2 linked regions of the Homo sapiens genome follow. The protein of the gene in region 1 purifies or fractionates together with the protein of each later gene. This does not show direct contact. Each region holds a gene or a part of one and is shown on either strand. Other genes may lie near its edges.

What was found.
Region 2: the proteins of ZNF778 (region 1) and SV2B purify together in Homo sapiens (affinity purification with mass spectrometry; one large-scale study listed by BioGRID and IntAct). This does not show direct contact.

What each region holds. Positions count from the first base shown.
Region 1 is NC_000016.10:89,220,685-89,224,337, forward strand, and holds part of ZNF778 (zinc finger protein 778), read left to right. Parts: intron 1-312; 5' UTR 313-443; coding exon 444-468; intron 469-1,407; coding exon 1,408-1,499; intron 1,500-2,472; coding exon 2,473-2,599; intron 2,600-3,653. UniProt on the Homo sapiens protein: May be involved in transcriptional regulation.
Region 2 is NC_000015.10:91,103,189-91,106,841, forward strand, and holds part of SV2B (synaptic vesicle glycoprotein 2B), read left to right. Parts: intron 1-3,653.

The sequences.
Region 1 (3,653 bases):
TCGAACATGTACCAGCTAACCGTCCTGGTTCACCACTTCCTAAGTGGATGATGTGGACCAGTTCATGTTATCTGAATCCAGGCTGTTTTAGGTATGAACACGGGTGAAATCTGTGAATGGCTGTTCTGATAATTAAAGGCTTCTGTTGTGTCTTTTGACCCATATACTGCTCTTCAGTAGGTGACGTGGATATTACTAGTCCTCAAGAGAGTAAAGTGGATATAGTGGCTTTCACATATATCATCTGCAGAAACAAGCTAATGCGTGAGGTTTGATAACTGGGAAGTAATGCTTCTTCATCATGATTGCTAGGAAATAGGGATCCAGCCATCCGTGGGTCAGGAGGAATGGAGACTGTACCTTCCACATAGATTCACAAGCTGCCCTGCAGTGGCCTTGGCTTCAGGAAAGGAGCATTCAGACGCTTCCGTCAGCCTCCCAGGATGGCAGCCCCTGACCTGGCCCACGGTAAGTCCTGGTGGGGCTCCTTCTCAGAGCCTCTGCTCTAGGTCCTGATACACAGTGTGTGTATCAGGCCCATGGACGGGGCCTGAGTAGTCACGCTCCGGGTTCCTATTGCAGCTGCTGGAGTGAGCCAGAGAATGCTGACCTGTAAGTCAGCCCCAGGGTGTGTGCTTTGGGGAGGGATGATGTGTAAACTCCTTCATGAGTTTTCTCACCACGGGCAAATGAAGAGTCACGTTCCTCAAGGCGTACCGTTCCATATCTGCAATAGGAGCCTGTTACCATTTCCTGATGGGCGGCATAGCTCACAAACATTTTGTGTCACCAGGCGAAACAGACTACCCTGGCACTGTATGGCTGTGTGTGTGTCTGTGTGTGTTTTCCTGAGGCACTGTATGGCTCTGTGTGTGTGTTTTCCTGAGGCACTGTATGGCTGTGTGTGTGTGTGTGTGTGTGTGTGTGTATTTTCCTGAGGGACTATATTTTCCTGAGGCATTGTATGGCTGTGTGTGTGTGTATTTTCCTGAGGCAGTTTATGGCTGTATGTGTGTGTTTTCCTGAGGCACTGTATGGCTGTGTGTGTCTTTTCCTGAGTGTGCAAGAGTACATGGGAATTCCCTCGCTCTGTATGACTGTGTGTGTGTGTGTGTGTTCCTCAGGCAGTGTATGGCTGTGTGTGTGTGTGTTTTCTTGAGGAAGTGTATGGCTGTGTGTGTGTGTGTGTTTTCCTGAGGTACTGTATGGCTTTGTGTGTGTGTTTTCCTGAGTGTGCAGGTGTATGTGGGAATTCCCTGACACTGTATATCTGTGTGTGTGCGTTTTCCTGAGTGTGCAGGAGTACGTGATAATTTCCTGCTAGGATGGAATGACTTCCGGGTCCATGAGTGTGGAATTAGGGTCAGCTCTGGGTTCTCATGCCTTCTTGCCTTCTTTGTTTTTTAGGAGGTCATGTTTCTAGGGACTCAGTCTGCCTTCATGAAGAACAGACACAGGCAGCAGGGATGGTGGCTGGCTGGCTGATAAATTGTTACCAGGTATGCCAAAACTGTATTTTTTCTTAAAATAACATACTGGTATTCAGCAGATAGACAAGTTTCTGTCTGAGCAGACTTGTCTGCACAGCCTCACTCAAGGACCGAGTCCCTAGTTGAACGCCTCCAGGGAGAAGAGCCTGGCTGGTCAGGTGTTACTGTGAAAATCCTCCCCGTATTTCAGTGTTACTTTTTTTTTTTGAGACGGAGTCTCGCTTTGTCGCCCAGGCTGGAGAGCAATGGCCCAATCTCGGCTCACTGCAATCTCCGCCTCCCAGGTTCAAGCAATTCTCCTGCCTCAGCCTCCCAAGTAGCTGGGATTACAAGTGCCCACCAGCATGCCTGGCTAATTTTTGTATTTTTAGTAGAGACGGGGTTTTGCCATGTTGGCCAGGCTGGTCTTGAACTGCTGATCTCAAGTGATCCACCCGCTTTGGCCTCCCAAAGGGCTGGGATTACAGGCTTGCACCACTGCGCCCAGCCACAACATTACTCATTATTTTCACCCTTGTGCCAAATGCGTGTTTCGTACTTTGCTTAGTGCTCTGACACATGGTAAGGAAGGGGAAGGTATCCTCTCTGGGAACTTATTTCCACATCACGAGTTACCACTTGTTTGTAGTGTGCTCAGGAGAGGGACATAAGGCGAGGGGAGTGCCCAGTGAGCGTGGTGAGAGAAGCTCACATGTTAGAGGTGTCGTTGCGGCCGTGTGACTGGAGGAGAGCGACAGGGTGCGCGTGACTGGAGGAGCGCGACAGGGCACGCGTGACTGGAGGAGAGCGACAGGGTGCGCGTGACTGGAGGAGAGCGACAGGGCGTGTGTGCGGGCAGAGAAGGGTTCCTGGGACCACTGGGCCATGGGGTAGACAGTAGGAGGCCTCACAGTCCCATAGGCGTAGGGCCCCGCCTCCTCATTCTTCAGTGAATACCGATGGACACGTTGGAAGGCTCCAACCGTCATGTGTGATGATTTAGGACGCGGTGACCTTTGACGACGTGGCTGTGGACTTCACCCAGGAGGAATGGACTTTACTGGACCCATCTCAGAGAGACCTCTACAGAGATGTGATGCTGGAAAACTACGAGAACCTGGCCTCAGTAGGTGAGGCTGCCACCGTCCTTTGCAACTTCTGTGGAACCAATACTTGATGTGTCCTTACTGTGTTCCAGGGTTGGTGACGGCAAAGCCGAGTACCACGGGAAGTAAGAGATATAACAACTGTGCTAGTAGGCTTGGTGCTAGTGTGGTCGTTTCCAGAATGTGGTCCTGGGGTCATGAGCATCACCGTCACTCCTCTAGAAACATGCATTCTGAGGCTTCAGCTGGGACACATTGGATCAGAATGTCTCCTGGGGGTGGGCCTGTCATCTCTCCTGTAACAAGCCCTCCCGACGATGCCAATTCACTCTAACACTGAGAACCACTGGGTAGTAGTTTCCCAAGTGAATGAAGATCTCTTATTGCACTTCTGTTATTTCCTATTTGAGTAAGAGTCTTTGTGGTTTTTACGTGTATATTTAAGCCTGAATGTGGGCTTCAGGAATCAGAGATAACCAGTTTCTTTGGGGCGCAGAAGGATGGAGTATTTGCACTTTGAGCCCTTTTGAAACAATTTCACTGCATTCTTTAGAAATGTAGTTCCTGGCATGCCACTGCACTCCAGCCTGGGTGACAGAGCGAGACTCCATCTCAAAAAAAAAACAAACGTAGTTCCTGGCCGGGCGCGGTGGCTCATGCCTGTAATCCGAGCACTCTGGGAGGCTGGGTGCAGTGGCTCAGGGCTGTAATCCCAGCACTCTGGGAGGCCGGGCGCGGTGGCTCAGGGCTGTAATCCCAGCACTCTGGGAGGCCAGGCGCAGTGGCTTAGGGCTGTAATCCGAGCACTCTGGGAGGCTGGGTGCAGTGGCTCAGGGCTGTAATCCGAGCACTCTGGGAGGCTGGGTGCAGTGGCTCAGGGCTGTAATCCCAGCACTCTAGGAGGCCAGGCGCAGTGGCTCAGGGCTGTAATCCCAGCACTCTGGGAGGCAGGGTGTGGTGGCCACGCCTGTAATCCCAGCACTCTGGGATGCTGGACGCAGTGGCTCATGCCTGTAATCCCAGCACTTTGGGAGGCTGGGCGCAGTGGCTCACGCCTGTAATCCGAGCACTCTGGGAC
Region 2 (3,653 bases), on another chromosome or scaffold:
ACGAATGCAGGAAGCAGAAAGCATAGGTCTTTGCAAGGCAACAGGAAGCACAGGAATTAAGGACACTGTGGAACGCAACATTCAGATTTCTCCCATCCGGATGGAGGACTGTGTTTGTGCTTCTTTTGAATCTTAGTATTATGATTTTTTGTTTCCTTTCCCCCACACTAAAAGAAAAGGTCATCTTTAGCAAACAGGCCAGCAGTCCTTGCTAGATATTCTTTTTTCTTTGAGAATGAGAAGAGTTTCTATGATCATGGAAAAGTGTTGGGATCATCTGGAAATATGCTGACCTTCAGTGTACCATGAAATGCATTTACATAATATCATATGGCAAATTTATTTAAAGCCTCTATCTTATAGGCTTAACATAAAGATCAGTTTGCTGCTCTGCCCTTTGGAAACTTTATTCCTCTAGAGAAAACATGGTTTGGGCATTTGAGAGCCTCATCACTCAGCTGTCCTTGGTGCAGAAGGGCTACTGCAGTGTGTTCCATGGCCAGAAATGGGGCTGGATGCCTGAGAACCTAGTCAAAGTTTCTGTGAAATAGAATGAGGTGAGGCTGGGTCAAGGTCAGAGAGTCTGGCTGGGTGTCCCCGAGTCCACCTCAGAAGGCAACATTTACTTCTGTGAATTTCCCCCATCCAATATCTGGCTTTTAGTATTGCTGCCTCAGAAACCTGATCTGTCTTTCCGGGCCACGTCACAGTGACCTTGTTCACCTGCATGCCAGCTTATTGATTTGCAGTGGTTGAGACACTGTGTGGCTTGGCTGGTGGGTCTTCTTCCTGCAGACCCCTGTCATAACAGCCAAATCACAAGGAGAAGATCTCCTGAAGCACATTATTCAGAGCAAAGCAGCTTAGATGCGTACCCTAGGGACTGATTACATGCTTTAGGGCCAACCTTGCCAACGGGACTACAGACCAAACCACCCCTAAACTTAATGGCTTAAAACAACAGCCATTTCTTATTTTCTCACATGTCTCTTGGTTGGCTGGGTAGTTCTGCAGTTCTGAGTTGTGCTTGCTTGATTTCAGCTGTGCTTGCTCATGTGATTTTGGTCTGCTGATGGAGTGTCTGAGGGCTGGCTGCTTTAGGATGGCCTCAGCTGGATGACTTGGCTCTGCTCCATGTGGTCACTCATCCTCTGGCAGGCTAGCCTGGCATGTTCACATGGTAGTGGCAGGAGGCTAAGAGAAAGTAAAAGCTTGTATGGCCTCTTGAGGCCTAAGCTGATAACTGGCACTCCGTCACTTTATCTTTGTCTAATGACAAAATTAAGGCACAAGATAGCCCAGAGTGGAAAGTTAGGAAAACAGACTCCACTTCTTGATAGGAGGAGCTACATAGTCACATTGCAAAATGTACAGATACAGGGAGGGGAAGAATTGAGACATTTTGCAATCAATCAATCAATCAATCTACCATAGGGACCTGAATATTTATTTATTTATTTTTGAGATGGAGTTTCACTCTTGTTGCCCAGGCTGAGTGCAGTGGTGCGATCTCAGCTCACTGCAACCTCAGCCTCCCAGGTTCAAGCGATTCTTCTGCCTCAGCCTCCTGAGTAGCTGGGACTACAGGCGTGCACCACCATGCCCGGCTAATTTTGTATTTTTAGTAGAGATGGGGTTTCTCCATGTTGGTCAGGCTGGTCTCAAACTCCTGACCTCAGATGATCTGCCCGCCTCGGCCTCCCAAAGTGCTGGGATTACAGGCGTGAGCCACCGCGCCTGACTGGGACCTGAACATTTAAAGTGCTGTTGGCTAGGTTTCCTTTTCTTCCGGACTCTGCTCGAATGGGCAGAGCCTGTACTTGCTCTTGTGACTGTCTCTTTCTGTGTTTCTGTGGTTGACCATCTAGAGATGTATGTATCTTTAGATAATCATTCATTCACTAAATAAATATTTATTGAGTGGTCTCTATGTGCCAGGCATGTTATAGGAAGTAGACCCATCTCATGAAGCATTCATTCTAGTTGAGGGAGACAAATAATATGTAAGTAAATAATGTATGTTTTATATCAGGTGATTAAGGAATGTTGAGCAGGGAAAGGAAGATGGGGGGTGCCTTGTTGTGTTGGAGTGGGAGGGTAGGGTAAAACGAAGTGTGGGTATTTTATGCAAGGTGGTCAGGGTGACATGAAGGAAGTGAAGGAGTGAGCCAGACAGTTATCTGGGGAAAGACATTTCCAGGTAGGGAGAACAGGTGCAAAGGCCCCGAGGCAACAGATAACTGGCATGTTCCAGGAACAGCAAGGTGGCTTATGTAGAAGGAACTGAACGAGACAGGGTGAGCGTGGGAGAAGAGATCAGAGAAGTAGCAGGGAGCCAGCTAATAGAAGGTCCTGTAGGGCCTTGTGTAGACTTTAGCCTTTATTTTGAGGAAAATGGGACACCACTGGAGAATTCTGAGCACAGGGTGCTATTAGCTGATTTATGTTTTCCAAGGATCCCTTGAGCTTTAGAGCTTAGTGTAGACTCTTGGAGGATAAGGGTGGAAACAGGGAGATTAGTCAGGATGGTACTGCAGTGACCCAGGTGAGAGAGGGTGGTGGTTTGGACCAGGCTGGATAGTACTTAAAATGGTGAGAAGTTGTAATCCCAGCATTTTGGGAGGCCAAGGTGGGTGGATCACTTGAGCTCAGGAGTTTGAGACCAGCCTGGACAACGTGGCAAAATCCCAACTCTACAACAAATAAAAAAATTAGCCAGGTGTGGTGGCACATGCCTGTAGCCCTAGCTACTCGGGAGTCTGAGGTGGGAGGATCACCTGAGCCTGGGGAGGTCGAGGCTGCAGTGAGTCACGATAATGCCATTGTACTCCAGCCTGGACAATGGATTGAGATCATGTCAAAAATAAATAAAAATAAAAAAAGATGGTGAGAAGTGGCTAAATTCATAAAGCAGGCAGGATGTGTGGATGAGTTAGATACTTAGAGTATGAGAAAAAGATGACATAATGAATTTTGACCTAAGCAGCTGGATGGAGTAGCACTTTAGTGAGGTGGAGAGGAAACAGTGATGGGGTTTAATTGGATATCCAATGGGAGATGTTAAGTAGTTCATTGCATATGAGAGTCTAGAGTTCAGGGAAGAGTTTCAGGAAGGAGACATAGGTTTGAGTATCATTAGCATGTTATTTATTTTTCCGTGAGCCAAGTCACTGCTGTATCACTAGTGCCCAGAATATTGTCTGGCACATTGTATATCCTCAATGGATATGTACTGAATGAGTGAATGGAACCACTTACTTACTAGAGTTGACTGCAAATCTTTGCTTTGGTGGATTTTGAAGTGTAACTCCTTGAAGTTATTTCCTTTCTTTACAAGGTCTCATGGGAGCCTTATTGTGGATCTTATGCACTAAAAAGAGGCTTTAAATGTGAAGGCTCCAATCGCTTATATCATACGGAAAGCAACGTGTGGTGACAAGAAAGAAAGAGGAACAAGTGGAAACCAAAAAATAGCTCATATTTTCAAAAAATGAGAAAAGATCCTTTAGAGGGAGGTGGCTGAAATTCAGGGGTGTGATGTTCTTGGGTTATTATTGTACTGCTCTTAATTTAAGATGAGGCAGAAGCAAGGAAGAATCTTGAAAGGGGAGAATTTTATTTAAATCAATTTATGCCGAGTGTCACCAGCTTGC